Homo sapiens: one gene and its partners. The protein of the gene in region 1 purifies or fractionates together with the protein of each later gene. This does not show direct contact. Each region holds a gene or a part of one and is shown on either strand. Other genes may lie near its edges. The genes, in order: MSRB3, KLHL7 and BTBD9.

Region 1 (10,949 bases):
CAGAGGAGATCTCTATTTTCATGTTTGAAGACCATGAACCCTCTGCTTCTGAATCAAAGGGGGAAAAACTGCAAAAGAAGCCATGTGCTCAAAGAAAAGAATGCCAAAGGGTATAAGTGGCTTGTGAAGAAGTTTCACAAAGCTGTCTCCATTTGCTAAAGCTATAAACAGTTCTTGATCTAGTCAATTGCAAAATACATGGATGGCCAGGGCTTCTGTTTAAGCAAAAGAAGAAAAAATATCAATAGCACAAAACTGCCCTTATAGTTTTTGAAAAAATATATCTATTAAGATAACAATTTTGATTTTTTTAATAAGCTGTGCATTAAGTACACTTTGTTTCCATCACTCTCCATTACTCTAGAGCTCCGCTTTGTCTGCCTGGGCCGGGCTGGCGACCCCACTGCCTCCCTCGGCGGTGCCACTGCTATCCGCAGGTGTAAAAGACAAGGCAGCCGAATTTATGCAGTATCTTTTCCCAGTTGGACGAGGCCCATCATCAAAAATGTGCCCAAGGTGAGCACCACACTGAAAGAGAAGAACAAAACGTCAGGGAAAAGCATGTACAAAGCAGGCTTTGAGAGGAATTCACATTAAGCAGTTTAAATGGATGACCAGCCTGTAGAGAAATGAAGGAAACCATCGTGGATGATTTCTAATCCGCCTGTCAATAGCCGCAAAGATGGTTTCTGGCAGGCTTTGCGCCACATGCTGAGAACAAAAAACACTAGAATTGTGCATATCAGAAATCATTTAGGAGCCACGTATTTTTTGATCTGTGAAGTCTCTCAGCCAGCTGAAAAATGACTGCAGTAATTTTATGAATCAAGTTGACCCTTGATCTTCCCTTGTAAGAAACATGGCAGCATAAAATCTTTCCCCCGGCATTACTTTTGGCTTTGGATGGGTGGGTTTCAGATATGCAGAAGTCCACTGAAAAGATACTGTTTAACTGGCCATGACAGAGGTGATGTTTGCTTTCATGGGCAGTAAAACTTAACATCAGACAAGTATTGGATGTTCTTGGAACCCAGCGAAGCAATGGCAAGGCTCAATAGATTTATGTCACAGTCACCAGGGCTGCAAATGTAGCAAAAGGAAACATCTCTAGCACACACAATTGTTTTTTTCCTGGCTTCCAACAAGTAGTGTCATGCTGGCTTCTTTATCCAAATGAACTCTAATATAAAGAAAAGCAATAAGCTGTTTAGCTAAAATCAATTTTACTGACTATTCAAAAAGCTGGGGAAGAAGAGACCTAAGGTCTAGACAGAGGCAGAAGGAACATCATGTTGGTGTTTGAGAGAAATAAAGCCCAGAGAAAGTTTCTCCAAAAAGGCTGGCTCAGTGAACACCCCTACACTAACTGCGTTGATGCTGGGTACAGCTCCAGGAGATGAAGGTACATGTCACACTTAGATATCTACTGCCCTTTTCCATCAGGGATGGGGCGAACGAGATGGAGACACTGGTGCACCATATTCAAGCAGGCTGTGAAAATCCATCATTTATCATGGATCAAAGAAACCAAAGCCTGGGGTAAATGACTTCCATTCATTCGTTTATTAATGGAGTGCCTGCTATATGCCAGGCACTGTTTTAGACTCTGGAGTACAGGCAACAATCCCTGGCCTCATAGAGCTTACATTCTAGTGGGAGAGACAGACAGTACACAAGAAAACAAGTGAACTATAAAGCATGGAAGGTAGAAAGCAATGCTAAGGGAGCAAAAAAGGAAGGTGATATGAAATGTTAGATAGGGTGGTCAGAAGAGGCCTACCTGGGGTGACTTTGGAATAAGGACCTGGAAGAAGTGTATCTCTAGGGGAGGGCATTTCGAGAAGAGGGAAGAGTCAAGATTTAGGTAAGAGTATGAGAGAAAAAGCATATCAATGATTTGTTAATTCTCACTGTGCTGATTTGGTGTATAAAACACTTATAAGTTTCAAGGAAAGAGTATGAATTCACAAGGGACTGGGGATGAGACACCAAATGGAGATGAAGAGAGAAAAATGAGAGAAAGTGCTCATTACAATGAAAAGCACTAGAATCTTAGTTTCCCTGTTGAACATGCTAAGCTCAATTCTCAAGTATTCCCTAGTTATTAATAAATAGCAGAAATAGCAACTTTGACTGTATGGCACTTCCATGTTAAAAGTGCATTCTCATTTCACTGCCAGCAAACTCTGTCAGTTTATTAAAGAGCTAAAAATGAACCCTGAACTGATTTGATCTATTGCCTAGAAAATATGAAACAGGCCTAAAAAACAAATCTTGTATTATTTTACCACATTCGATGCAGGTTTAGGTAATATCAAGGCTGACAGGTCAGACTGCTTTTCCTTTCTATAAACAATTGATGCCAAATTTTTAGGCATCCACAGCTAAGATGAACCAGTAAAAATACATATGCTTGCCCAACGGACACAGGAAACACCCATTTCTGCCTACCAAAATAGTCAAGGTGCTGTCCAACAGGAACCAGTGCTCTCAGTGACCAGTGTGTGTGCACAATTACTGATCTCAGATGCAGCTCCAGCACTTGGATCACTTGGCATTTAAGAGATGAAGTTTTCATATACCTAAAAGCCTTAGGGGTGTGTGTGTGTGTGTTTAATGAGAGAATGCAGCTATCTGGGAAAAATAAATGATATTGCCTTTGCTAATAATCTCTTGAGCATCTTTAGAAAATATTTCTATTTATTCTACACCAAAAATAAAGCATAGTGAGGATATATTTGAAGGTGTTTAAGAATGAGTTATATGGTCTTAATTTCCCAAATCATATTTTAAAAATCCAAATTACAGTAATTGAATCTGTTGAACTGGGTGAGTTTTCAACCTGTAGTTTCATTTGCTAATCTGGTACTAGTATTCTGGTTAAATAGAAAGGAAAACACTGATTCTAGGTGTGTCCCTAATCCAAGGCAAAAAAAAAAAAAAAAAGTGAGGAAGAGAAATTATAGTTAGAAAAAGACTATGAAAACTATTTGCTAACAAATATATGGGTTGAGGATGGGGGTAGAAAAATCCTCAGAAACGGTTTGAGTCCCCTGAAAATGATAGTTATGGCTTCATTATACTTGCCACAGGGTGTTCTGGAAGAGTCATAGCAGCCTTAGGTTACTAAGGGAAGAGCATCATCTCAAAACATAGAAAGGTGTTCATCTGTATCTGTGGCACCACATACATCCCCGCCCCACTGCCGGCAAAGCCATTTGTCTGAGGGAAGCCTAACCACGCAGTGCCATTCGAGCCTCCTCCCAGGTAAACCTAGTCTCCCAGAAAGGACTGTTACCCGGTTTCTTTGAAAAGCGCACAAGCCTTGAAGGCTCCTCCCTGAGAGTACGCGCACGGAGCCCATTCTTTGCAGCTTCTAGCCTTGGGAAAGCTGGGAGGATAAATGGAAGTTGCCAGAGGAGCATTGTTTCTTTAGCTGCCTGCAAGCTCTGCCTCCCAGGCCCCAGCCAACTGGCAATGTGTTGGGGTTTCTCAGTACACCTGGTTGTAACTGAAACAAACTGGTTGCTCGATGAAGAAATCTCTGAGACCTGCTGTTAATGATTTATTTCAGGATAGAATCTTTAGTGTGCATTTTGAATGTTGTTTTTAATGGTTATGTGTTTCTTTATTTCACAGGTAAATGTACCTGAATATACTGGTCTTCATTCTGAAGAGCATCAGATGATTGTTCAAAAGAAAAAATTTGAATTCTCACAACAATCCTTTATCACCTAAGCCTCCCACTCAGAAAAGCTGGCAGCTAAAGAACCTGCAGAGAACCAAGGGAAAGGACCCCCTAAAATAAGTGTTTGAGCATCAAGTTTAACATAATTCCTTAAAATCTGACTGCAGTTCTCAATTGTATACATAAGAAACACAAATAGTGTATTCAACACAGTTACATTTTTCTGCACTGATGTATTTCCCACTGTCTTAGAGGTTTTTCTCCTAGCTATTCCTAGGATGTTTGGGCTTTATTATTGTCATTTTCTCTTAAGTGTTTGATCTATGAAATGAAGCATTTTCAAAGCAGGGCTTTTACACTTGGACACATGGGGCAGGATGGGAAAAGTTTTAAGAAGAAAAGCAATTTACTTTGCCAGTAGTATTCTGTTTTCTCCCACTGTTATTGAAGACACTTGTGTGTAAGTGGGGGCTTTTTTTCCTCTGTGCTTGTGATATTAATCTTTTGCCAAGGAAATGACTGTGAAGTCACCAGTTTAGCATTATGATTTTACTGAAAGATCAAGAAAAAGAGAGATGGGCTGTGAGTCTGAAGCCCTATTGTAACACATGTGTATCTTTAATCATCAGCAATATGTGAGTTGTCATCTGTAGAAGATTAATAAGGTTTGGGGTTTTTACCAAAAACTGCTTAACTTTTGAAAAATACTTTCTATTGGTGCATATTTACCTTTCTGTTGATTTGGCTGACTTAGAACAAATTAATAATGATCTTAAACAAACTTAAGGGACTATACCATAGACTCAAGCAGTAATAGCAGCACTCATAAATAGACTCCAACGTGGGTAAATTCAGAGATCTGATGGTTTCCTTAAAAAAATATTACAAAAAGTTAAGTGATTTATTAGTCTCCCATTTGCTCCAGCTGGAGGATTTTGATCTGAAGAAGGAAGAATTCCCCAAGTATTCTAGAAGGAACTTACTTCACTGAACTGCAGGTTAAACTGTGGAAATCTTACTTCTTTGCACTGAATTTAAACTCCTGACAAAGCGTTGCTTAACAGGCTGGGGTTGGAGGATTAGGGAGAGGCTGTTGAATAATTATTCATAGTAGTCAGTGAAACTGGAATAGAAGCAATGTATTTTATCACTAGTTGAAAATATAAATTAAATCAAGGAAAATTCTTTATAGCTGAAAATTGTTACAAGATGGCTGCAGCTGGAGGGAAAATACATGTGCCCACCAAAGCGAGTAAATTTAAGATGAAGATCCTCTTTGGAAGAGATAACTGAAATGTAATTCCTCAATTCAGTAGGTGGAATAACAAAAGAGAACAAGTAAAATTGCAACAGAAATCAGAATATAACAGGGTACCCATAAGCAACAATTATAATGAAGACAGTGAAGAATCTCTCCGACCCTTGCTTGTTTTCAGTGCTGTCAATGCAAAGATTAGGCAGTGTGCTGTTTCCTACACAACAATTCTTTTAGAAGAACCTCACTGCAACACTTCTAGAAAAAGTGGTGATAGGACTGAACCAATCTGAACTCTCTCAGTAAATCTTTACTAAAAACATTATCTGAGAAGTCACTGGACACATGGACAAACCTCTTTACAATGTACTGTAAAGCGGTGGTAGGCTATTGGCTCCCAATGAGTCTACAATTCCTATGCAAATATGAGGCCTAATTCACTGTATGCATGGTGTCATCCCTACCACAATTTTTTTTAAAAAAGGATCCTAAGCACTGAAGTGAGAATTAGGTAGGAACCAAAAGAACAATGAAATATTGCCATATTGCCAAACTGCTGATCAGGTTGAGTTGATTCAGGTTTTGTCCATGAAGGCTCAGTTCATTTGTAGAAGTTGGCAGTTAAAGGTTCTTCGTATTTAGATATTCCATCTTTACCAAAAGGAAAGAAATACACCACATAACACATCCGACTGAAAATGTCTACAACACACTAAAAGCATCTAATAGATTTTTTATAACACAAACCATATTGAGGCAACTCAGTCCAGAGAAAAGACAAGCCACGTAAATTAAGAATACAACAAGAATTTTAGAAAGAGAGCAAACCAGAATAGTTTCCCACATTATCTCACCAGCAAAATAATAATAATAATAATAAAATAAAACTCTTAAAAAATGGGAGAAGCTGGCTGCATAAATGTCTTCTTTTGAGAAGTGTCTGTTCATATCCTTCACCCACTTTTTGATGGGTTTGTTTTTTTTTTTCTTGTAAATTTGTTTAATTTCTTTGTAGATTCTGGATATTAGCCATTTGTCAGATGGATAGATTGCAAAAATTTTCTCTCATTCTGTAGGTTGCCTGTTTAGTCTGATGATAGTTTCTTTTGTTGTGCAAAAGCTCTTTAGTTTAATTAGATTCCATTTGTCAATTACACCATGGAATACTATGCAGCCATAAAAAAGGATGAGTTCATGTCCTTTGCAGGGACATGGATGAAGCTGGAAACCATCATTCTCAGCAAACTAACACAGGAACAGAAAACCAAACACCACATGTTCTCACTCATAAGTGGGAGTGGAACAATGAGAACACATGGACACAGGGAGGGGAACATCACACACCAGGACCTGTCAGGTGATTGGGGGCTAGGGGAGGGATAGCATTAGGAGAAATACCTAATGCAGATGATGGGTTGATGGGTGCAGCAAACCACCATGGCACGTGTATACCTATGTAACAAACCTGCACGTTCTGCACATGTTTCCCAGAACTTAAAGCATAATAAAAAATAATAAAATAAAATAAAATAAACGGGAGAAGTTCTGAGCAGAAGAAGAGACTACATGAACTGAAAAACTGTAAGGTAAAAGAAGATAAACAGATAATGAAAAAATAGTGCTAAAAATGAGAAACTAGGAAGTAAAATACAAGTGACTGCTCTAGCATGGGAACTACTAAATCTTTTATTTTATCAAGTCAAGGTAAAAAAAGATGCCTGAGAAAAAGGAAAATTTTAAAAAAAGAAAGAAAATTATAAAACAAAAGGAAAATAAACGTGAATGGAACACACAAATAAAAGACAGAGAAATTGAAATGAAAGATACCCAGTCCACTTGAATTCAGTACGCTGTTTTTGTGCTTAGGTGGCAGACACCCCCTCCTCCATCCACAAGGGCAAGGGTGTGGCACACATACCATTCGTTAGTGCTGGAACCTCATTCTCTCCTGCATAGAACTTACTTTACTCCAAAGCGTGTATTTTCATACATGCCTTAGCGGAACAAATTCCTCTCCCTCTTTTCTTTAAATTTAAGAGTTCTATTTAAGAAAGAGTCAAACACTTTCTAAATATGAAAAGTGAAGGCTGTGGAAAAAGAAGCCAAAAGGGAGCAGGTCAGTGTTGGTTCATCACACAACTGTTAGGAAAGAACAGGAACAGTCACCTTGGGCTTTAACTGAGGGGCCAACAGCTATGCTTGGTTTAGCCTGACTTCTTTTAGGAATGTTGCCTAATTTTGGCATTGTTTGTGGGTTTCATTTCTCTTTGGTCACTGTAGGACATCTTCATAATGATCTTTCCTAGACTACTACTGATGTTATCTATGTGACTGGCACAGAGAAAGAAAGAAGCTTATTCCAACAGTGAATTATAAGAATTTGTCACAAAGAGGTTAGAAAGTAGGGCCATAAGTAAAGTTAATATCTTATGCTTCATTTTTCTGTGCCTTTTAAATTTAGTTTTCATAAGATTCAATGTTTGAAAATGGGTTCTGAGTGAAAACGAGTTAAAACGATCACGTAACAGCATTTGTAGCTTGAAAAAGAAAATAAAAGAAACAACGATTAGTCTTAAAAGAGGTTTACTAAATACTGTGTACCTAAGTTACAAATTAATGTAAGCCATCCTACTTATAGTTTACCTTTTTGTGACAGTTATAAAATCATCAATCAAATTTAATTGAATTTAAAACTAAATTGCAGGCTGGGCACGGTGGCTCATGCCTGTAATCCCAGCACTTTAGGAGGCTGAGGCAGGTGGATCACTTGAGCTCGGGAGTTCAAGACCAGTGGGGCAACATGGTGAAACCCTATCTCTACCAAAAATACAAAAAATTATCTGGATGTGGTGGTGTGTACCTATGGTCCCAGCTACTTGGGAGGTTGAGGTGAGAGGATTGCTTGAGCTCGGCGGGTGGAGGTTGCCGTGAGCCAAGATCATGCCACCACACTCCAGCCTTGGCAACAGAGTAAGATCCCATTTCAAAAACAAAAAAAACCCCAAACTATATCGCATTAAGCCAACTGCTGGAAAATCATGAGATTTTTAAATTTTAATGACTCTTTTCAACCTGTCTATCTATCTGGGCACCATAAAGAGCTCTGGAGAGTACCCCAATTCAAGTCTCAGCTCTGCCACTTAAATCCACATAAGCTGACCCAAGTTTAATTGCTCTCTTTGTGCCTCAGTTTCCTCAACTGTAAAATAACAGAGAGAAAAAAGGACCTACCTCAGAAGGTTATGGTGAGCACTAACCAGAGGAGCTTTTAAAAATGCTGCTCCCCACACTAAACCTGTCCAATTACATTAGACCCTCTGTGGGTGAAACCCAGCACCAGAAAGTTCCACTATCACCATCAGAGACTCCACTCTGAGAAACAAGAGTGAGCTGAAAATGTGATTCAGATAAAATATGAAGTCTAATTTTCAAGAGAGAGAGTAGTCCTCACACTTGAAGGACAGGAGACTTGCCAGTCTTTTTTTTTTTTTTTTTAATAAAAACAAAAATTCATCAGAAGGTTAGGTTCAAACTAACCTCCCTCCCTACTTGGTAGTAAATATGCCACCTACTCCCTAAACATTTTGTGCCTGGTGGAGGGGGTTAAAGAAAAATGGATAAAGGGCAGGTAAAGAATGCTGAGGGAGGCCCATATGGCAATCACTTTGCTATTACAGCTGCCTGATCATGCTCCTGTACCTCTGATATGTCCAACAGATTCCCCAACAAAATACCCTGTGGTGTCAATAACTTTCAATGCCACAATATTGCAGACTTTACATTTCACTTATTTAAAGCAGGTTGAAAGAACAAGATTGCCTTCCATAGAATATGCAGCTGCTCTTATTCCATGTAGATGGAGATTCTATGTCTCTGTGTTTAAGCACAAAATACCCACAAGTTCAAGTCTCTCGATTGTGGGTGTCAGATTAACTATTTTTGCCTCCTCCTCAACACATGCTCATTTGCTTCCTTAGAGCCAGCATTAATTTGGTTAAAGCAGATGGACAGAACTAATTAGGAAATTATTGGAAATGAGGATGTCTGTATATCAGGAGAAGCAGAAAAGGAATTACCTTATCTCATGTAGCCAACCTACCACTGAACTTTCACTTCCTACAGCCTCTCTTCAACCACCTTCCTCACACCCACCTAAGAAAAGCCATTTCTGAGGTCTTCCTTGATTGTGTTTGGATCACTGCCAGTAGAGGCATTCTGACTGAACAGTGGGTACACAGAACTGCAAGGAGAGGGAGATTATCAAAATATCAGGTTATTCAAAGCCACATAATGAAATCTTCATATGCCCCAAGAACAGCCCACTCTTCAATTTACTGAGCCAATTGAAGATGATATTTTTCCTACCAATGATTTTGTTTAATAGTGGTGAAGCCAATAACTGACATTTTATTTATTTATTTATTTATTTATTTATTTATTTATTTAATTTATGAGACAGGGTCTTGCTCTGTCTCCCAGGCTAGACTACAGTGGCATGATCACAGCTCACTGCAGCCTCGACCTCCTGGGCTCCAGTGATTCTCCTGCTTCAGCCCCCCTGAGTAGCTAGAACTACAGGCATATGCTACCATGCCCTGCTAAGTTTTAAAATATTTTCTGTAGAGACGAGGTCTCACTAGGTTGCCCGGACTCGTCTTGAACTTCTGGCCTCAAGTGATCCTCCCCACTTGGCCCTCTCAAAGTATGGGATTACAGGCTTGAGCTATCATGCCGACCTTAACATTCCACTAGACTTGCTAAACACCTGAACATAGGCATCCATCGGACTTCATATAAACTTCGTCATGCTTGTCTGTCCTTCTTGTGACCAGTCGCTTGGCCTTAGTTGCTATATTTAGCACAACCAGGAGTCCTGAAAGCAATGTATTGGGTTTTCAGAAAGGATGAACTCACCTGAGAGCAGCTTGTTTCCACCCTGTGCATCCCATAGGAAAAGTCATCTGTGAATGTGATTGCCTCAGAATTGATCACATCGTGGAATGAAGGCCAACCTGGGACACAGCAGGCACAAGAATCAAAGCAGAGAGGAGAGATACACAGCCTTGGGTTAGAATGCATTTTAAAGAAATACTAAGCAAATAATGAAAATCCTTAGTGTATGTTTAACTTTTCAACCTGAAAAAAGAAAGGTCAAAAGCTGAAGGAAAATATATTTTGCAAGAGTACAGTTATTTTTTAACCCTTTCCTCATATTCAGATTACAGTTGCATTAGGGTTTGGTGCTTCATGAGACATTCTTAGACCATCCAATAGTTTTCTAGAGTATCCTTGAACTTAGAAGGCTCTCTCTCACCACTCTTTCTCTTGTCTTCAGAGTCACTCAGCATGGCCCTGAAGCACTATGAATCTTCCATTACGATGTTTTCCAAAACACAATCAATTGGTCTGGCTGTTAACTTTTCAACTATTCCATGCCTCCTTAGAAAGCAAGCTTTTTCAGTACCTAGTTTGGATAGTTAAAATTTTGTTTAACAAAACGACTATCCTGTTGTCACCATCCTCATCTAATTTCCTGGAAAAAGGGTTATCTGGAAATCATAGCATCTATCTATTTTTATGGGCAAGAAGCTTGTTCACTTCATAAGAGACTCATAGAGCATCAGTCCTCAGACATCTCTGGGCAGCACCTTATCTCAAAGAGCATCTAGTTCAAAGTTTTATTTATTCTAGTGATTTTAAAAATATATGCACACTTTAAGAAACTTGATGGTAAATGGATCATAGGATTGTACAAATGTTTTGAGTGTACAGTCAGGTTTTATGTTCAGTACTTATGGGCATGTTTTTATGTTTCCCCAAAATATGTCTGGAGTTACTGAGCTGAAGCCTGAATCCCCAAAATGATGAAAGAGGGGCGATGTTGCTGAAGTGCTGGTGCAATTTTTTTTTCTTTTTCACAAGTCACATTTACTTCTGCAGAAAGGAAGAAGCCCGTTAAGAACCTGGTGCTTTGTGTTAATACACCTATTGAAAGAAAACAGAATG
Region 2 (10,949 bases), on another chromosome or scaffold:
AAAGAATAGAAAGCCCAATTTAATGCTCAGGTCAATGTCCTATAGTTAGAACTAGTAGTGACGGGTCCTCAAATATGTATGCACAGATACTCAACGCGTCATAAAGAAAGAAACTTTGGTGCTGCTTTAGTGCCTGAAAGATTTGGGGGCTTTTACAGGAAGAATCCTTTGGTTCTAGTAAAGGCTCACCTCAGAAGCAGCAGACATTTTAGGCATCTGTTGGTATCATGACCTTTTGCTCTCTATCAAGTTTACTCGACAGGATTACAAAAGGCAGTTGGGTCCATGTAAGTGCTAAAGCACTGTATGAGGATTAGCTTTTAATCACATGTGCTGTCATTAGTAAGAGGCATGCAGTCAACTGCCCCACGTTCTATTCTTTGTTATATCCCAAAGAGAAGACTGAGGAATGACTAACCTTTAGATTTATGTGGCTTGTCAAGAAGGTTCTGCAATCAGTCCCTCCCAGCATGATATCAAATTGGCATTGAGTATAAATCCCTGAGCAGATTGTAGATTCAACTACAGCTGGGTGGTAGATTTAAATCACTGAAAACATAAAGGGAAATGAGGCCCTTATTAGATGGGGTAAATAATTTTCTTGGATTAGTTACTAGAAAAGCTTCAATAAAGCAATAATAAATGCAAAGGCTAAGAAACATTAAAAAGACTTCTCTAGAAATCACATTTGTCAGAAAAGCAGAGAAAAACAGGATTGAACTTAAACACATACACAATTAGAATAAGGCAAGTGGGATAGTGAAGGAAAAACAAAGGAAGATACCTAGACTAAGCAGAAGGAAAAGAGGGACTGCCTTCCTTAAGGGAAACATATGCCAGGTCAGGCCAAACAGCTTTGCAAAGGAAAGGAGACTTGGGCATAATTGCCCTTTAAGAGCTGGGACTAAGAAAAAAAAGCTATTTTTGTTATTTATTCAAGGAAGGTGTTATGGACCAAACAGGAATAGAAGAAGAGAAGTAAGAATTCAGGAGTAGGTTAAAACAGTTCTCTCAGAAAGGCCTGGATCAGCACTTTGGGAGCCAAGGCATGTGGATCACCTGGGGTCAGGAGTTCAAGACCAGCCTGGCCAACATGGCGAAACCCTAACTCTACTAAAAATACAAAAATTAGCCAGGCGTGGTGGTGCGCGTCTGTAATAGCAGCTACTCGGGAGGCTGAGGCAGGAGAATCACTTGAACCCGGGAGGCAGAGGTTGCAGTGAGCTGAGATCATGCCACTGCACTCCAGCCTGGGTGACAGAGCGAGACTTGATCTCAAAAAAAAAAAAAAAAAAAAAAAAGGCCTGGCTCTAGGAAAATTTTATGATTCCTCTTAATGCTAAAGATATTAAGAGAAAATTAGAGGATTTCTCTTAAAGAATAGGACAACTATAATAGGCCATTACAATTAAGTTCAGACAGATTTGAAAAGGAGAAAGATCAGCAAGAGTATTTCTTGCATTATTAAGTAATTTTCAAGGTGATATTGCTGGGAAGACAGGTGTGGTATTTGCTATATGGCATATGGTATATAGTGGAACTGAGAAGTTTGTGGAATTAAGACTGTAAGGGAGAGTACTAGATCACATTAAAGTAAGTCAAATAACCCAAAAGTAGTCCAGCTCTAAGTTATATGCTGGACATCCCCACAATTAGAATTACCTTTCTGAGAGTAGTGACGGCTGGCAGTAGCTGAGCTAATTCTGAACACATGTGCTCTCTTATTTTCCACTAGGGGAAGTTCTGTAGGAAAGGCATTAGAGGAATATGTATGCAAGCAAAACAAACACCAAAATCATAAGGAAAAGAAAAAGAAAGGTATTCTAATCTAAAAAGGTCAGCTACCTGATGTAGAAAGGAAAAGATCCAACTTAAGCAGGTTAACAAGTCAGCTGAGGCTGCCTGAAAGAACAGATGTACCACAGAGGAAAATGCAACACTAGAGACATAGCCCATTTTGACACAAATAGGTGACAGAAAGGAACATGTCTGCGCTGCTGCTGAGTTTGCAAGGCCTAGAAATTTCAAATACTGAGGAAAAGCAAGGTTTTGAGGAGCATGCTGTAAGGGCCATAGTGGTCCCTGTGGGACCACGGGCCTTAAAGGAATGTTAAAGGCCATTCTCCAGCTGAGACAAATGGAGAGGAAAGGAGGACAAACCCCTCCAAGAGACAGGATTCATAGATACAAGGAATTTCACAGCATGACAGGATCTTAATGGGCACACAAAAGTGCAGAACAATCAGGAAGCTCAGAATTGTAAGGAATGCAAGGCCACAAACTGTGCTCTGCAGAACTGCTGGCTACAAATGTAAATCACTCTCCTCTCAAAAATGAGAGAAGGCTTTGTCATTAGATAGAACTCAATCATTTCAGCATTAGGTTGCCAGGAACATAGGGTTCAAAAAAGATATCAAAATTAAGCTTTAAATGTGCAGGATGGATAATAGGGAAAAAAGGGAAACTCTATGATACCTGGTAGCTGAGTATTATCACCCTGGCAAATCTCTAACAATTGTCTAAGAAAAAGAATGAGTCCTGGCCAGTCGCAGTGGCTCACTCCTGTAATCCCAGCACTTTGGGAGGCTGAGGCCGGCAGATCACGAGGTCAGGAGATCGAGGACATCCTGGCTAACATGGTAAAACCCCGTCTCTACTAAAATACAAAAAATTAGCCGGGTGTGGTGGTGGACGCCCGGTAATCCCAGCTGCTCGGGAGGCTGAGGCAGGAGAAATGCTTGAACCTGGGAGGCAGAGGTTGCAGGGAGCCGAGATCACGCCACTGCACTCCAGCCTGGACGACAGAGCGAGACTCCATCTCAAAAAAAAAACAAACAAAAAAAACCCAAAATGAGTCCTATGCCAGAGAAGCATCAATATACATTGAATAAATCTCTTCTATAGATGGTAAACAGTGCCCCTATAAGCATGGAAGATTCCTCCCAACTGAGTTTAGCCCTAGAGTCTATAGATTACAGAAAGCTGATTCAGACTGGCAAGCCAAAAGCCAAGATTGTTATGTTTTCTTTGAAAACCCTCTGTTCCCCAGAAACCAAAGTTTATATTCTGTTTTTGGCTGCAAAAAATAATGTGGGTTAGGACTGTATAAATAAAATGTCAACATCTGGGCTGTTTGGTACAGAGATGAGAGATCTTCTTATATCAATCCTAGGGACGTTCTAACATACCGGAAAGTGTGGCATCAACTACCTTGAAATTGGACAAATTCAGCTTTGGAGGTGCTAAGCTAACTAAATCCATTCCAATGGAAGCCAGCCCACATTGCAGCTGCTGAAGAAGCTACCCTGACTGTACCCAAACACTCAAGCAAACGCTTTCTGGCTGACTAAACTGAACAGTATAAGAAACCAGGGTGAGCACATATTTGGAATTCAATTGCCTTTCATTTTAATTCAGAGGATGAGCATAGATGTTGGAATTTAATCATGAGAGGGCTCATAACAGTCAGATTTGGGAGATTCTGTGTTGCTAATACAGAATTATATGGAGTGCTTTAGGCTGTCATTTGGTTCACCACAGAACATCTAGAGAGCTATGACACCTTGGCTTAGAAAAATTTGAGATGGGAAATAGAAGTGAATTGCCAGCCTGTAGTATCTCAAGGCCTGGTGTTAATAGTTATCCACCCATTTCAAAGCTTTCTTGGGTAAAAATTTAAATAACCTCTTAAGCTGGTATTCGGATGATACAAAAAAGAACAGTTATTGGTAGAGGAAAGTAGCCACATAAGCATTTAAGATAGAACAAAGCATTCCCTGAGCTAGTAAGAAAATAGACCAAAAGACAAGGCAAACTTGGAAAAAAGAACTTACAGCTACTTGGTCCAGCTACTTTGTGCTGGAGTTTGGGGTGGGGCTTTGGTGCCTGAATTCTATCATTCAGCCCACTGAGATTCTCAACTCAGGTTGTTTATATAAGGAAGTATCAATAACCAAACGAGACATAAGAAGATGCACTTTTGACTGAAGGGCAAGTACTTGTTAATCTCCCATATGCAGTGCTTCTCTCATAAAACAAAGTTGGAAAATGAGGCTTTGCTTGATAAGCCAAACTTTAAATTGCCCCTACATATCCCAATAATCTAAATTTTGGAAGCTGCACAGTCGTATGTCCTACATGGGAAAAATGAGAGATGGTTTGGCCCAAACCCAGCTTATGGAGTCCATCATAACACATACCTTACCTGTCCTACTCAGCAGATGGATTCCTTAAATACAACAAGGTAGCCCTCAACAGAGTAACTTTACCATTAATAAAACAACAGTGTCTTCAGTTCTAACTTAATTAGATTAGCAACTCCTCTCTCATTTGACAAAGTGAGGAAGTGAGGTAGATATGAGCTCAAGATGCCTCATTTCCTTTCAGCTTCTTACATTCGTGCTTTTCAAGCTTCTTTTTTATGTAGCAGAATTCATTCTCAAATAAGCTAATCTGATATAATTTATATAGACAGCATGGTCTCTATGTAGCAAGAATTAACAGCCTGGCAACCAAAAAATGGAAGAGGCTCCCTTCAATATTCGGGGGGTTTTTTTGAGACAGAGTTTCGCTCTTGTTGCCCAGGCTGGAGTGCAATGGCACGATCTCGGCTCACAACAACTTCCGCCTCCTGGGTTCAATCGATTCTCATGCCTCAGCCCCCTGAGTAGCTGGGATTACAGGCATGCGTCACCCGGCTAATTTTTGTATTTTTAGTAGAGACGGGGTTTCACCATGTTGGCCAGGTTAGTCGTGAACTCCTGGCCTCAAGTGATCTGCCTGCCCCAGCTTCCCAAAGTGCTGGGATTACAGGCGTAAGCCACTGTGCCCGGCCTGGCTCCCTTCAATATTATACTTAATGATTCACTTACAAAAATTTTGCTTCTAATCTCAGCAATTAGTCTTTCTGCTAGTGGGTTCTGTTAGTTTAGAGATTTTGAGGCCCAAAAGAAAAGTGATTCCACCAAGTGATAGAAAAATGTTTCCATGGGATTGAAAGTTAAGACTGTGACCTGCCTATATTAGCCTCCTCATTTTTACCTCCTGTTCAGGTAAAAAGAACAAAAGACAGGGCTTTGAAGGCTAGCTTAATATTCAACGTAAGTTCATAACAATGTCAAAAGAATCTTCAAAAATACTGACAGCCATAATACCATTTCTATTCTTCGCAAAGACTACATTCCTCAACCTCCAGCTTTGCCTTCTTACTCCTTCATTTTAGCAGATGATCTCATTCTATTTTTTTTTTTTAGAGAAAAGAGAAATCACTGGATAGAAACTCCTTCATTCTTCTGATTCCAAACACACCTACTATCAATCCCCTCTTTCTTCCCACTTCTTATGGAAGAGGAACTGCCCCGCCACCCCTGTCTGAGATTAATCACATTTGCTTTGGATCTCATATCAGGAATTATCTATTAATTGCCCACTCTGTCTCATATATATCCAACCTCTACATCTCTTTTTCCCACTAGTTTTTAAAGACACCTATATCTTTCCCATTTAAACAAATAAAACCCAGCAACCTTCGTTTGACTCCCTCTCCCTTCAAGGCCAAATTTCTCAAAACAGCTGCCAGAATTTCCTCATATTCTACTCACTTCAGCTTACATTAATCTGATTCCCATTTGTCTGCCCATCAAAATAAGTCTTACTACAGTCAACAAACCACTCTGTGTTGCTATGTCCTACTATAAGTATTTTTAGTTTTAATCTTATTCTGATCTTTTACCAGCTTCAAAAGTTGCAGTCCTCCTGTGAATACAGTGCTTTAGACCATTTGGCCATCCTGACTTGCTGGGAAGGAGAAACAATTTCTTCCCAATTTTCGAAACTCTCATTTTTCTCCTATTCTTCTGGTGATTCCTTTGTTATCTCCTCCATAGGCCCATTTTCTATCCTTTATTCTGGACTCTGGACTCTTGACTCTTCACAGCTTCAATGAAGAAGTTATCTTCTATATGCAGATAATTCACAAATATATACATCTAACCCACAACTTTCCAGACCTGTCAATTTGTCATATATACTTCAGTGTCACAATGATATCACAAATTAAACACATCTAAAACACAAATTATAATCCTTTCCCCAATGCTTTGATCCTTTTCCAATACCTCCTTTCTCAGTGAATAGTGTCATCATCCATTTAGTTATGCATTCCAGAACCCTAGAGATCATAAGTGACACCTTATGCTGAATCCCTCAACATCCAATCATGTACCAGCATCACAATACAAATAGCTAACACTTACTGAGATGTTACTTGTTATCAGGTCGTATTTTAAGTTATCTTAATTTGGTTACCTAATTTAGTTATCACAACCACATATGGCAGTTATCATCACCAAGTCCTGTTGATTTTATTATCTTTTTAATCTATCACTTTTTCTTCATTGATGTTGCTTATGGCTGCCACTGTCATCACCTCAGTCCAAAGGACCATCATGTCTCACTGGACCACTACAGCTTCCTATTTGGTCTGCCAGCAAGCACTCTGAAAACTCTTTAATTCATTTACCACAAAGCAGTAAGTCTTTTTTTTTTTTTTTTTTTTTTTTTTGAGACGGAGTCTCACTCTGTCTCCAGGCTGGAGTGCAATGGTGCAATCTTGGCTCACCACAACCTCTGCCTCCCGGGTTCAACCAATTCTCCTGCCTCAGTCTTCTGAGTAGCTTGGACTACAGGCACGTGCGACTATGCCTGGCTAATTTTTTGTATTTTTAGTAAAGATGGAGTTTCACCATGTTAGCCAGACTGGTCTCAAACTCCTGACCTCAGGTGATCCACCTGTCTCAGCCTCCCAAAGTGCTGGGATTACATGTGTGAGCCATTGTGCCAGGCCAAGTCATCTTTTTTAAAGAAGAAAACATACCATCTCTACAAACATGCATGCACATGCACACAAACATGCATACACAGATTTTAGAATAAGGGCAAATCACCTAACTTGACTTATGAAGCTATGCATGGGCAGGTCTCTAGCTACTTCGCCAGTTTCATCTAGAACCATCGTCCGCCTTATGTTCTGTGCTCCAATTACACTGACCTTTAATCAGTCTCGAACTTGCCATTCTATAATAAAGTAGGTCTCCAACTCAGAGCCTCTGAATATGTTGTTCCCTCTACTTGAGTCACTCTTCCCTTTTCTCTTTACCTAGTTAACACCTACTCTTATTTCAGCTCTCAATGACCATTTCCTTAGAGAAAACTTCCTGATGGTCAAATTACCCACCCATATGCCCTCGTTGTACCATGTTATTCTCCTGTGTAATACCTACCACTGTTGCAATATTACATTTATTTGTGTGATTACTTGACTAATGTCTTGCTTTTCTACTAGCCTATAAACCACAAGAGGATTGGGACTGTCAGGGTTTGCTTATCATTGCAACCCCAGAATCTAGCAAAATGTTTAGCATACAGTGGGTTGTCAATAAGTATTCATTTCAATGAATGAACTTGGAAGCCAAATTGAACTAGAGTAATAAATAAATAGTAAGTAAGAAAATGTAGTGAACCGCATGTTCTCACTCATAGGTGGGACTTGAACAATGAGAACACACGGACACAGGAAGGGGAACATCACACTTTGGGGACTGTTGTGGGGTGGGGGGAGGGGGGAGGGATAGCATTAGGAGATATACCTAATACTAAATGACGAGTTAATGGGTGCAGCACACCAATATGGCACATGTATACATATGTAACAAACCTGCACATTGTGCACATGTACCCTAAAACTTAAAGTATAATAATAATAAAATTAAAAAAAAAACAAAAGAAAATGTAGTGAATTTACTCAGCTTTTCATCTTAATGGGGGGAGAGAAGTATTTAGAGGGGTATGTTGAGATTAAGAATGGGTTTGCTGGTTGTTTGGTTCAAAAGCTGGAGAGGTTAAAACAAGCTTAAGTGCTAATAGCAAGAATCCAGCAAAGAAGAAAAGTTAAAGATGCTCAACAAAGATGGAATAACCAACAGTATAATACTTCTGAGAAGCCCAGCATCCAGGAAGCCAAAGCCTAGGTAGAAGTACTGGCCTTAGAAAAAGCAGCAGCATCTCCATTGTAGCAGGATAAGAAGAGAAAAGGGAAAGTGTCAAAATAGGTTTATAGATCTGGTGGTAGAAAGTGAAAAGGTAGACAGTTCTAGACTAATGACTTCTATTTATCTATGGTGTCAAAAGAAGGTGATCTGCTGAAAGTGAGGATCTAGAGAAAGGACTCAGATTGGAGGAAAATAGTAAAACAAAAAGATTGCTCACGGGCACTGATAGTCTAGTGGAAATTAGTGGCCAAGCACTTACTTGGCAGAAGTTGCCCAGTGAGATATTTTCCAGCTGTGCTTGGAGCCTTGCACAAAGAAGGTAATCAGTCATCAATACTCAAGTTTGCCAGATGGACATGAAAAAGGGACAGAGGGTCAAGAAAACTGGGACACTGGAGAGACAGTGGAGTGACAATAGCTTCTAAGCTGGACAGACAGAAAAAGAAAACAGAAAACAGTAAAGTACAGGAAAAAGAATAAGAAGGTCTGGATGACTGGAATTGTCAATGAAAGTTAAGAGAATTAAATGAGACAAAGCATGTAAAACACTCTGCAGAGTGGCTGGAACAGTTATAAGTGCTCAAGAAGTCTTATTAATATCAAGGGTTTAACACTGAAGGTTTAGATTATTCACAAGAGAACCTAAAGATAATGACATGTAGTAATTTACAGTCAGACAGATGAGAATACAGAAGCAAAGTCATTTTAGCCGGAAGGTGAGCCCAGTTAACTGCCCAGTATCTAATTGTGAAATCAGCTTTGTAGTTCTCTCACATAACTCTCAATAAGGACTTTAACATAAGCTTTCAAGTTCCAGTTATGCTTTAATTCATTTAATGTGGAGAAACTATAAACTATGGTGGTACTCAGGAAGGTCTTAAAACATCTTCCTCCAATGTTAAGAGACTCCTGGACTTCATTAACACAAAAGAAGAGTATGGCAACAGCAATGTGCATGTGCAATAGTGACTGTGACCCAGACCTGCCTTGTAAAGCCTCTATTTTACATATCAGGTAATAACATTAATCTAAGCAAAAAGTTAAAGAAATAAATGAAAAGGTACTCAATCCAATTAAATAAGATGCTCCTATACACCCAGTTAGAATGGCTAAAGTGATAAGACTGACAACATCAAGTGATGGCAGGGATGCGGAGCAAAAACCTCTCTCACACACAACTGGCAGAAGCGTAACATGGTACAATCACTTTGGAAAACTACACGACGATATCTTTTAAAGCTGAAGGTGGTATAGCTTATGACTCAAAAATTCCTGTTTGGTATTTCCCAACACAAATATTAATACATACATATGCATACCAAAAGGCATGTACAAAGTGTACAAAAATGTTCAAAGTAGTACTAGTCTTAATAGTTCCAAACTAGAAATAACCCAAATGTTCATAATGATAGAATGGATAAATTGTGCTATATTCATTCAATGGGATACTATATACCACAAGGATGAAGTAGCGCTACACACAGCACAGATGAATCTCACAAACAATGTTGGCTTTAAGAAAACAAAACACAAGAGTTTATGCCATATGATTACATTTATATAAGTTCAAACACAGGAAAAACCCACTTTTTGCCGATGTGCTGCAGACTTTCATGAATGCACCACACACCAAAGACAGAACAAAGAGCTCCTCTTAATAACAGGGGTGCATAGTGCCCTTAGAAGATGGCATGGCATGGTATTTATCAATGGTTGCTTCTGCTCTAACTTCGATGGTTACAGAGTTAGAATAGTTGTTACTACTGTGGGGTTGGTGACTGAGAAGGGCATAAGGGGGGACCTCTGGTGTACTGGTCATGTTCTCGTCTTGTTGGTGGGATGTGCACTTTGTAATAATTGAGCTATACATTTATGATTTGTGCCCTCTTATATGTATCCCATACTTCACTGGAGAGTTTACTTAGAAACAAAAGGCTAGAAATGACAAAAACAATGTAGGAAAAGGCTTTAGAAGAAGCCGAGGCTGCTGGCTCTGCAGAATCCCCTTTTGCCTCTATGTATAGAATCGGCCACTATACTACAGAGAGATGGAATGACCCAAATCATGTTATCTAAAATAACAAAATGAAATAATGAGAGAGCAGGATTGGAACTGAGGTATGCTAATCTCACAATGTTCTCAAATTCTTGAAGGAATGTTTCTGGATGTTTACAGAGGGGTCCTTGTCATCTAGGCACTCATTATCCTGATCCTTAAAGCAATGAGATTGTAAAGGGATGTAAAAGTAGTCATAACACAAAAATATTTACTAAAGAACAAGAGCACTTATAAAGTTGGTCCTCACTCAAACATTCCTACTCTGGCTCAGACCAGCCACTGTTTCTGCCAATTCCCATCAACTGCCCTTGTCAGTCATTCTCGGTCAATTGTTTCCTGTGTTATGATGTTAAACAGGACAATACAATATAACCATAATGTAAATCAATTGCGAAGTGAAACTGCACATCTTGCAAAAGATGCATGATTCCATGAAGTTGATAAAAGTGCTATTGGAGAACTGTTTGAATCACATGCCAAACCACTGACAACAGGAGAACCTGGCAGATTAAGGTCAGTTAATCATTGTGGAGGGGACCCCTGGTTGTTCACCAGGTAACCATTTTTTCCTTCCTACTCAGTAACAGAACCCTGATTTTTCAGTAATTGTACTTCTATTGTAACGGTAAATAAGTGATGTTAATATACTCCAAAGCTAAGAAATGTGAGTCACTTTTTAAATCCAAAGAGCTAAACGGACAGTCTCAGATAATCCTCTGCTCCTCAAGTAAATATTTGCTGCTGCAATCCAGTTTCACCCTATTTAGGGATTAAGGCAATGCTTTACAATGCTATGATCCACGAATGAAAACATATATTCGAGGGAGTGGGAGGGAACCTAA
Region 3 (10,949 bases), on another chromosome or scaffold:
GAACCCCTTGCCTCAAGCGGTCCTCCTGCCTTGGCCTCCCAAAGTGCTGGCATTACAGGTGTGAGCCACTGCACCCAGCTCAAAGAGCTTTGAAAGTATTAAAGGTTCACTGTTACTATTACTGTCTTTATGTGATAGATGAGACAAATTTAAATTCTAGTTTAGAAGCCAGGGATGGATTCATTCAGCCACTCATTTATCACTTAGCAAAACAAAAGTCTAGATTCAGGCACTGTGCTACTAGGTAGGTGCTTGAAAAACAAAGGCAAAACAACATAATTACATTGTTCAAAAAGCTCAACCTAGTATAAGAATCTAAGCAAACAAACCAAGAAATATAATATCACAGTTGCAAGCTCCCTCAGTCTGAGGAAACTATAGGGATAGGTACAGGGTAAACAGGACAGACCACACACACACACACACACACACACACACACACACACACACGCATATTTATGTGTTAACCAATAATGTAACTTAGCAGTCCTATGAACAGATTGACTTTTTATTCAATAAAGATATCTTGAGGATAGAATTTGTGATATGCTCCCTACTATAAACATTCAGAAACAAGAAATTACTCTCTTTCCCCAAATCTAAAACCTGAGATATACAAAATGAAATATAACTCAGCCTTAACAAAAAAGCACTAACTTTTTAGGATAGATAGAAATATCTCCACAGCTAAGACAAAGCTAAATGTTTGGCAGAGGTACAGGTAGTTCAAATATCCTAAGAAAAAAAAATTCATTAAAAAGTTAATTCTCTTTCCCCAGCTGTATAGAAAAATGTTCATCATTATATATGCATAAAACTAGTCTAAACTACCTTCCAGAAAGACCATCACAGATAAGTTTAAAACACTGTTTGGATCTTTTTTTTTTAAGGGGGAAAAAAAATCCCTGTAATTTGGTAAAAGCCTTAGGACATGCAGCTCTAAGAATTAAACTTTACAGTAACCAACGATAATAAATTCAAAGAAAAAGCATTAGTCTCTATATCCCAGTCCCAAGATAAAACCTCTCTACACTTCATGAGAAGTCCCCAAAGACACAGAATCTACATCCAGATTCTGAACAACAACAACAACAAAACCAAATTCTGTCAATAACTTCAAAATAAACAGACCTATCTTTTCAAGTCGTCAGCCCAGGAACACTTCTGAAATTTTATATCCTTTTTTTCCCCTAACAGTGAAGAAATTTGATAAAAGAAAACAATGTCATGAATGTTAAGATAACATTTACTGGCCAGGCGTGGTGGCTCATGCCTGTAATCCCAACACTTTGGGAGGCTGAGGCAGGTGGATCACCTGAGGTCAGGAGTTCAAGACCAGCCTGGCCAACCTGGTGAAACCCCATCTCTACTAAATATACAAAAATTAGCCAGGCGTGGTGGTGGGCACCTGTAATCCCAGCTCCTCGGGAGGCTGGGGCAGGAGAATCACTTGAGCCCAGGAGGCTGAGGTTGCAGTGAGCCGAGATTGTGTCGTTGCATTCCAGTGTGGGTGACAAGAGTGAGACTCCATCTCAAAAAAAAAAAAAAGGATAAAATTTACTTAGAAAATAACCTATTTTTGGAGATTGGGTGGGCCCACATGAGCCTACAAGTGAGGTGCAGTGGCCATGGAGGGCAACCGAGGGGTCAGTGACCACAGACTCCCTGCAACACCCCAGCCTGGCGGCCTGACATCGGCCCAGTCAGTGGAGACCTGTGGAGAGGTGGCGGTGGTGGCCTCCACAAGCCCTCTTTTTCTAGGGTTGTATAGATAGAACATCCTGGAGTCCACCATGAACAGACAGTTGGACCTAAGTGGGAAGGTAATCATGAAAGCTCAACTTGGGGAGGATATTCCAAAAATTCCTATTCATAATGAAGATATTAATATTACTTATGATGAATTAGTGCTAATGATGCAACGAGTTTTCAGGGGAAAACTTCTGCGTAATGTTGAAGTAACAATAAAGTATAAAGATGCAGATGACGATCTTATAACAATTTTTGATAGTTCTGATCTTTCCTTTGCAATTCAGTGTAGTAGGACACTGAAATTGACATTATTTGTTAATGGCCAACGAAGACCCCTTGAATCAAGTCAGGTGAAATATCTCTGTCGAGAACTGACAGAACTTTGAAATAAAGTGAATCACTTATTGGATAGCTTGGAACCACCTGGAAAACCAGGACCTTCCACTAATATTCCTGAAAATGTTACTGTGAATGGTAGGGAAGAAAAGCCTGCTTCTTCGGATTCTTCTGGAAAACAGTCTACTCAGGTTATGGCAGCAAGTATGTCAGCTTTTGACCCTTTTAAAAAACCAAGATGAAATAAAAAATAATGTTACGTCGGCATTTGGCTTAACAGATGATCAGGTTTCAGGGCAACCCAGTGCTCCTGCAGAAGACTGTTCAGGAACATCTGACAGCATTGCCGCCTCCTCCTCAGTAGCAGCTCACCCACCAGGAGTTCAGCCACAGCAACCACCATATACAGAAGCTAAGATACAAGCAGGTCAGACTGAAAGTCAGCTGTATCAATAGTACCAGCAACAGGCTAGCTATGGTGCACCGTGTCTGCGGGCTCTACCTCAGCAGCCTCAACAGTATGGTATTCAGTATTCAAAAAGCCAGAGTCAGCAGACTGGACTCCAAACAACCTCAGCAGTTCCAAGGATATGGCCAGCAACCAACTACCCAGGCACCAGCTCCTGCCTTTTTGGTCAGCCTCAACAACTGCCTGCTCAGCTGCCACACAGTACCAGGCAAGCAATTATCCTGCACAAATTTATACTACCCAAACTTTTCAGCCTACTAATTATACTGTGGCCCCTGCCTCTCAACCTAGAATGGCTCCAAGCCAACCTGGGGCCTATAGACCAAGATCAAGTTTTACTTCACTTCCTGTAAGTAGCATGACCCCTCCTCCAACTGGGCCTAATCCTTATATGTCCTCCCTTTGGTCAGGGCTATACCAAACCTGGACCTGGTTATCGATAACGAGGCTTATCTACACCAATTAATGTAGCTGCTAGCTATTGGCCTCCCAAAAGACTCCAGTACTGTTTTAATCTGTAATGAAGTTCACAAATTTTAAAAGCAGAGCATTTGTTATATCTTTGTTGCTGTTAATTGAAAGTATAATTTGCTGGAACACAAAGACCAAAATCAAAGTTCTTTCCTCCCTGCTTAAAAATATAGCAACTTCTTAGTTATTTTGGAACACTACTCTTACATGTATGTAAAGTGATTGACCTAGCTTCCCTTGTCCAGAGGATATTAAAATGCTAGTGTAAGGTTTAGTCATCTTACTTGGCTTTCTGCTATTAACATGATGTACTAAAAGTAGAGCCCTTTTAGAATACGACTAGATGTCATGTATAAAATGTAAGACTGATAGATTAATAAAGATGATTGAATTAAAAAAACCTATCTTTTCAGGGTCTGACAGGGAAGTGTAATGCTTCCTTGTATTTATATTATTGATTTTATTATTCACATGCTTTAAAAGTCAGGAAAAACAGACTTACTTAATCATTACTCAAGTTCAGAAGTTAGATAAAGGATTCCCAAACATTTACATAGTCTCTTCCTTGAGCTCCCCCTCATTCACTTCAAAGTGAAGAATTTAACATTGATGAACAACAATCTGTGTATGTGTCATTCCAGAACTGAGTGACTCAACTGGCTAAGTTCTCCCTTTCGCAACTCATCTCCTGAGTTTCTTGTAACCCAGGTACTACCCTTATACTGACCAGTTGATCAATTCCAAACTACCAGTAACCATGTGAAATGTCCAAAACAAATCCTCACTCCTGCAAACATGTCCCAAGATTATCCCTATAATGAATCCAGTTCTAGGGCCTTTTCAGCACTTCAAATCAAATGCAGGGCAAGAGAGGGAAAGGAACTTATATAAGACAGGATCCGACATGATAATTTGAAAAGCCTAACACTAATTACTCATCTTACTACCTCTTCACTTGCCATCCTCCCACACTTTATCCAAGGCTGACACTTAACTAGTACCATTCTCTAGCACCTCTGATTTCTTCCTGGACCTCTCCCAACCTGATCTCTCTAGCTACCATACTATTTTTTTACTACCTTACAATCCAATTCACAAATCAGACAGACAATATGTTATCTCTATTATCTTTTCAAACATCCATGGCCTAATTCCCTGGCAGCCAATCTTCTGTCCAGATTACTTATCAACTAATCACAATTTATATCCAAAAGTTGTCTCTCAATTTTCTTGACCTCCCTATCGTGAGCTACCATTGACCATTGGATCCATAGGAAAGCTCTCTCCTCCGGTTGTCCTCTGTAACTCTATTCTATCCCAAATGTCTTCCTTCTTCCTTCTCTACCTTAAGTCCCCTGGCAATAGGTTTTCTCCAAGTTTCAGACTTTGTTTTTTACTTCTTTTTCTATACTCTAGCAGCTCAGGTTTCAACTCTTTTATCACCAGCTTTGACTGGTCCTAAAGAGTAATGTGTTCCTATTTCCTATTAGACATTTCTCCCTGCATTCATTCACTAAGCATTCACCAAGCATTCACCAATTACCCATTATATGCTATTTGGTGTGTTAAATGTTGAGGATATAGAGATCAATAAGGCCTATAAAGATCATCTCTGCCTTCAAGGATCAAAGACAAGTAAACAAAAATGTTTAAAACAATGTGATCAAGGTGGTAATTCTCACACAGATATACACAGAAAAAAAAACACATCATAATGATATATGGTAACAATGGTTTCCTATATTGAGCTTGCACACATTATTTTAATTAAGTCTCATAACAATGCTAGGAGATATAAAAGGTAAAATTCCTTAAATAATTTAATACCAGATTGTACAACTAGTAAGTGACTAATTCAGGATTTGAAGTCAAATTTGTCTGGGCCAAAACCTATGTTTCTTCTCCTATGCCCAGTGAAAAGAAATCTAGACCTGATAAGTCAGGAGAGAATTCTGTTAAGAACATCTATTTAAGATCAATCAGTATTTCAAGAGAATGTTTAAAGGCATAGTCAAGAAGAGATAACTCAGGGAAATGACTAGTTTGGGACAGAAGTTACAACTTGCAACCCCAAAACCCTCAAACTCAATCTAAAAATCAAGCTCAGCATCTTCTTCAAAGAAGTACTGTACTGTATTTCATTACAGACATACCTAGTGTTCAAATTTTTAAATTTCTGAAATCGCAGTGTAGACATCATAGTGTGTCACAGTTAATTGGCAGTATTGTTTCTTTTCTTAGTGGAACATAAAATAATGGTGCCTGAGAATTTCTGGCTTCTTAGATTTGATAACAAATGGTAACTTTCTCCTAAACTTAATCCCCACATTTATATCCCTTGAATCATCAAGATCTATTTTTTTCCATTGTATCCGTTCTAATCATCCATTATTTTCCATTTTCCCTGCCACCAATCTGGTTTGAGGTAGTATCAATTGTGCACAGATTAAATACTCTCCTCACTGGTCTCTCTGAATCAGTTTTCCCCTATTCTAAATACTCAAATACAGCACTATGGATCAGTCTTTCAAAACCACCACTGCATGCATGCCACTCTCCCTCTCTCAAATTGGTTCCTCACTGCATGTAAGGGAGATTCCAATCTAGTTTCCAAGACTTCCATAAACTGGCCTAAGCTGACCTTCACATAGTTTCTTTGCTATTAATCAATAAAAGCCTTCTACTCTAATCAAGCTCTTCTATTTATGGTCTCTTCAAATGCTCTAACCTCTGTCTATTAACCTCATGATTCTTCCCATCTGAAATTCACCCAACTCTTATACTATTCAAATCAAATGTCAAGGCTCAACTCAAGCTTCATAACCTCCATGAAATCTCCCTCAACCATACCAAGCCACTTCTTCTGAAGTTCTATAACATGTACTCCCTTGAATATTGTTGTATTTAACTTTTCATGGGAGTTTATGTCTTATTTCCACAATGAAATTAAAAGGATCAAAGGCAGAGACTATGTTTAACAATTATGCAGCATAGTTTAGTGGTTAATTACACAACTTCTGGAGCCAAACTACATAGGTTTGACTCTCAGCTCTGTCATCTTTCTGTGTGACCTTGGGCAAGTTACTTAACTTCTCTGTTTCAGTTTCCTCATTGTGTAAAATGGAGTCAATAACAGTATATACCTCAAAGAGTTGTGAGAATTAAATCGTGTAGGACCTGTTCTTGATACATACTATGCACTCTGTAAGTGTTAATTGCTATAAATCCATTAATAAGAAAAATCACCACTTAAGTGGTGATAAGTATCATAAGTGTTAGCTACCTTATGTATGTATGTTACATAAGTGTTAGCTATTATTATTGTTATTTAGAATCTCCATGTTCAGCCGGGCGTGGTGGCTCATGCCTGTAATCCCAGCACTTTCTGAGGCCAAGGCAGGTGGATCACCTGAGGTCAGGAGTTTGAGACCAGCCTGGCCAACATGGTGAAACCCCGTCTCTACTAAAAATAAAAATTAGCCGAGTGTGGTGGCGGGTGGCTGTAATCCCAGCTACTCAGGAGGCTGAGGCAGGAGAACCGCTTGAACCTGGGAGGCGAGGTTGCAGTGAGCCGAGATTGCAACTTCCATTCTAGCCTGGGCAACAAGAGTGAAACTCCATCTCAAAAAAAAAAAAAAGAATCTCCATGTTCATGGTACCCAAAATAATAAGTACATAGAATGTACTCAGTATTTATTTGATGGAGGAAGGAAGAAAAGGTCTTAACATGAGCAGCAGCTTTTTAGGAAAGTGTCCATTTCTGACATTCTGGGGAGGAGTTGAGAAATCTGTCCAGGAATGGCAAGAAATACCTATTTGGGGGTCTACAAAAGCTAATCAATCTCAGGAGGAATTAACAGGAAAATGAAAGGGAAAGACATTCCATAGGCTAGCTGTTTATAAACGTACATATTTCATGTACACCTGCACTACACGGTTCTGTAGTAGCTTTGCGGTTTTAATGGCATGAGAGGCATACCAAGCTTCTTGGTTGAGTTTAGGATAGACAGGTACTTACTGAGCATGCCTCTATAATTGAGGTCCATATCCCGGCTCTCAGATCGCACTTTAATGGCATCCAGGATGGCATCAGGAGACAGCAGTCCTGAAGGCCTCACAACATTCAGAAGCTCTGTGAGGCTCATGAGAGGTAAACGCACAGCCTGCATGATTTCAGCATGATTCTCCTTTGAATTGTGCTTACACCAGTTTAATAAGGCTAGGAAAATATCTTTTTCGGGAGCTGCAAATGAGTCTCTTAACACGATGTTTAAAAGTGCTGTCTGAAAAGGATAAAAAGGTAAAATTCCAGTTATATGAAGTTCAACCACTGCATGACCAATCAGTAAAAGCTTACAGGACAAGTATAACTTAGCCAATTAACTCTTTTTGACCCTCTCCTTCCCTTATGCTTTGTGCCACATATTCTCCTACTCATTATGGCTGTGTAAACAACCAAGACGGTAGCACCATTCTTTTATGTTCAGGTATCTTGTACCACTACATCAAACATTTAATCTTTCCAAACACATCTGCATTCATCTTTTTTAAAACAGCAAAAAGAAAAACGCCAAAGTGAAAAGCTGTCAATACATTCAGATTCTTCAAGAGAGTGTACATTGTTAAGTTAGAAAGACATATTTGGCATTTAAAATTCAAATTTTGTTCCACAGTATTACTTCACTACCATACTTTTGGCTCTCAGATCTCCAAACTGACCTCCAGGAACAATGTTGCAACCCTCAAAGATCATTGTCTTTAAAAATTAAGTAGAAAAAAATGAAATAGGATAACACAGATCTTAATTTACACTCAAATCAAGATATGTAGCTTTTCAATAGATTTTTCTCATTAGAAATATCCAGGTTCTAGAAGGAACACAACAAGGCAAATGGAGAGACAATCACTACCCAGAGTTCAAAGGAAGATTTGAGCAAAACAGTTTTACTCTAGCTATAATACTGAATTTTAAGCCAGCAAAAAAAGCAGGGACTTAAAGACATCAAATGTTGCATCAGATCTCCTCTATGAATTTGCCTGCTTGCTCTAAGGAATTATTAGTCACACTCTCTGTCAGAGAAAAACAAAACCAAAAGGTAGTATGCAATACCAAAAAGGACCCTATTTGATTGTCACTACCTTGAAAACAACCACACAGCAGCACAGTCTCTTTTGCACATAAAACTTACCTGAAGAACCTTAAAAGAAAACACAACCAACCAGCCCCTCTCTTTTATGATCTAGAGTCCTGGTAGCTAGATGCAAGTGGCTAGACCAGATAACCAATGATAACGCTTTGATACCAATGATTTTTTTTATTATTCTTAGTCCATTGCTATACTTCTACAGTATAGGTATAAATAAAACAATGCATGCCTATAAATTACTTGTAGACAAATGACACACCTTAGAAAGGGAGAGGAAACCTTCACTTGAGAGGACTTCCTGAGCATTCCTATCCATAAACATGCAGCACATACAAGTTAACTTGGGAAGTGAGTAGAGACTGGCAACATCAAAAGTCATGCAGACATTCTGAATGTTAAGTATGGTGCAGAGATACTCAGAGGTAGAATCCTCTAGCTCTGGAAATCCATATTTATGAGCCAGGCTCAAAAAGTCCAGCAGCACCTCCTCCTTCTCATCTGTCAGCGTTGCCCGCCCAGTGTAGATATATTTGAGTAGCATTGTGAATGCTTCTGCAGTGGTGTCTTGGAGAGGAATTTCTGCTTCAGGCTGAGACTCTCGCATTCCACCATATAATAATGCTCTGCACATCAGGGAAGAAACACATGAAGAAACCCTCAAATAGGATTTGCTACAAAATATTGGAAATAACAGTTATCAACATTATGCAAATATAAATTTTTTTAATGACACAAAGATCCAAGTGAAAAAATGCAAAGTAATCATTTAAAATGGTTCTTTACAGGACACAAGAGGAATGATTTTAAAACTATTTGAATTAATTCTGTAAGCCACTGAACTAATGAGATACTCTGAAAGCTCAAGATATGTGACAGATATTAAATAGAAAGATGAGAGTGATCTTTTGAGAGGCACAATGAAGTTGATATAAAGATGTTAAAGGTCAATAAGGCAATTTAAAAAGTAAAACTCTATAGGAAAAGATATAATCAGATAAACACTAATATGATGCCATTCTCCCCTGTAAGACTGGCAGAAATTAAAAGGCTTGTTAATATCAGTGCTGCAAAAGCAATGGAAAAACATGTTCTTTGATATGCTGCTTTGAGAGTATAAATGGCAGCCCTTTATGGAAAGTAATTTAGTAGCATCTAGTCAAATCTAAAATGTGCATACCCTTCAACTCAGTAATCTCTCTTTTAGGACTCAATTCTAGGGAAGTAATACAGTAAAGAAAAATGTGTAAGAAAACATACTGAAACACTAGTAAAAATCTGAATGTCCATCAGCAGCAACATGGTTAAAAAAACTGTGATATACGCATTCTATGCAGCCATTAGAAAGATCAAGGGAGATCAACAGGTACTGTTTTGAAAACATGTCCAGGATATGGTAGGCAAGTAAATAAAATTGCAGATCCATATGTACTGCATTAAAAAAGTACATAACCAAATATTTACATGTTTATGCACATATGTCTACATCGGTATTTCTTTAAATCAAGAAAAATCAGAAGAAATTCATATTAAACTCTTAACATCACTTATTTCTGGGAAATGGTATTAGATGGCTGGGAGACAAAGACTTTCATCTGTTACTTTATAAATTAAAAATGAAATTACTGATAGGATTACAGTGATTTTTTATTTTTTTCCTTTCAGATTAAACAAAAAGCCCTACATTATTGCTTATCTAAAAAAATGAAAACTAGACAATCCAGTTAGGTAATGAATTTGAATTTCTACCTCTATCAATCAAGAGGAATAATATGAACCAATTAAACTTCCAATCTATCAGGAAAGAAAGGACGAAGAGGACAAGGGAGAAGTGCAGAAAAGGGAGAGAAGAATACAGAATGAGAAAGAAAAGATGCAAAAGTGAGAGGAAGAGACTGGAAATAAGAAAGAGATTCTCCGTGTTGCTAAAATTCTCAGAGTAGGACTAGCATTTCAGGTTTACCTACCTGGAACTTGTCCCACCCTCCCCCAGGACCTAGCATTCTTGCTTGCCCCAGAAAAATAGTTGAAACCACCCAGAAAAGATTCATGAATATTCTGAGCATACCTCTTCACTGGGTTATACTCTGCCTAAAAGTACCCCTGAAGGTTTCCATTAATCCAGAGAGCATCCAACCATTACCCTAAAATTACCAAATTAAAGAACTTCTCCTTCTCGGGGAGACCTCAAGACTTATCCCCAATCCTGTATGATCCATGGTATTTATTTGGATTCTCAATGCTTTAAAAGTGGTTTTGATGAGGCTCCCTTGGAACAATAAACATGAACCCCCAACTTCAACAAGGAGACAAGCACAGAGGTTCAATGTTTACTATGAAGTTTCCTCCTATACAATTCCTTATCTGGGAATTGATAGGCTATTATGACAGCACTTAGGCCTCTTCTGACAGCTGACAATTAACATTCCTTTGCACATGAATACAGTCAGCATTGAGAACCTGTCTAAGGTAGCATTGAGCTTAGCTCTAAGGTAGACTTAGAGGTAGAGCTTAGCTCTAAGATAGTCTAAGGTAGACTCTGAGCTTAGCTTAGTGAGCCAGCAAATATTACGAAGGTTCAATATCTACAAAGACATCAAGAACAAGGTCAATAAGCGGGGGGAGTATATTCCATTCACTCAATACGATCTTCAAATTTCTCAAAGTATTTGAGTTTTTTTTAAGGATATACTAATCACCTAAAAGATATCCTCATAGAGTTGTTTCAAATTATTTTTGAAAGAGGACAAGGTACACTGTACTAATAAACAATAAAC

The links.
Region 2: the proteins of MSRB3 (region 1) and KLHL7 purify together in Homo sapiens (affinity purification with mass spectrometry; 2 studies listed by BioGRID and IntAct, with this or other methods). This does not show direct contact.
Region 3: the proteins of MSRB3 (region 1) and BTBD9 purify together in Homo sapiens (affinity purification with mass spectrometry; 2 studies listed by BioGRID and IntAct, with this or other methods). This does not show direct contact.

The regions. Positions count from the first base shown.
Region 1 is NC_000012.12:65,452,734-65,463,682, reverse strand, and holds part of MSRB3 (methionine-R-sulfoxide reductase B3 isoform 2 precursor), read right to left. Parts: intron 9,956-10,949; coding exon 9,858-9,955; intron 529-9,857; coding exon 361-528; 3' UTR 1-360. UniProt on the Homo sapiens protein: Catalyzes the reduction of free and protein-bound methionine sulfoxide to methionine. Isoform 2 is essential for hearing.
Region 2 is NC_000007.14:23,107,434-23,118,382, reverse strand, and holds part of KLHL7 (kelch-like protein 7), read right to left. Parts: intron 550-10,949; exon of another isoform or gene 473-549; coding exon of another isoform or gene 419-472; intron 1-418. UniProt on the Homo sapiens protein: Substrate-specific adapter of a BCR (BTB-CUL3-RBX1) E3 ubiquitin ligase complex. The BCR(KLHL7) complex acts by mediating ubiquitination and subsequent degradation of substrate proteins. Probably mediates 'Lys-48'-linked ubiquitination.
Region 3 is NC_000006.12:38,585,530-38,596,478, forward strand, and holds part of BTBD9 (BTB/POZ domain-containing protein 9), read right to left. Parts: intron 10,539-10,949; exon of another isoform or gene 10,241-10,538; intron 8,847-10,240; exon of another isoform or gene 8,807-8,846; coding exon of another isoform or gene 8,799-8,806; coding exon 8,435-8,798; intron 7,312-8,434; coding exon 7,047-7,311; intron 1-7,046.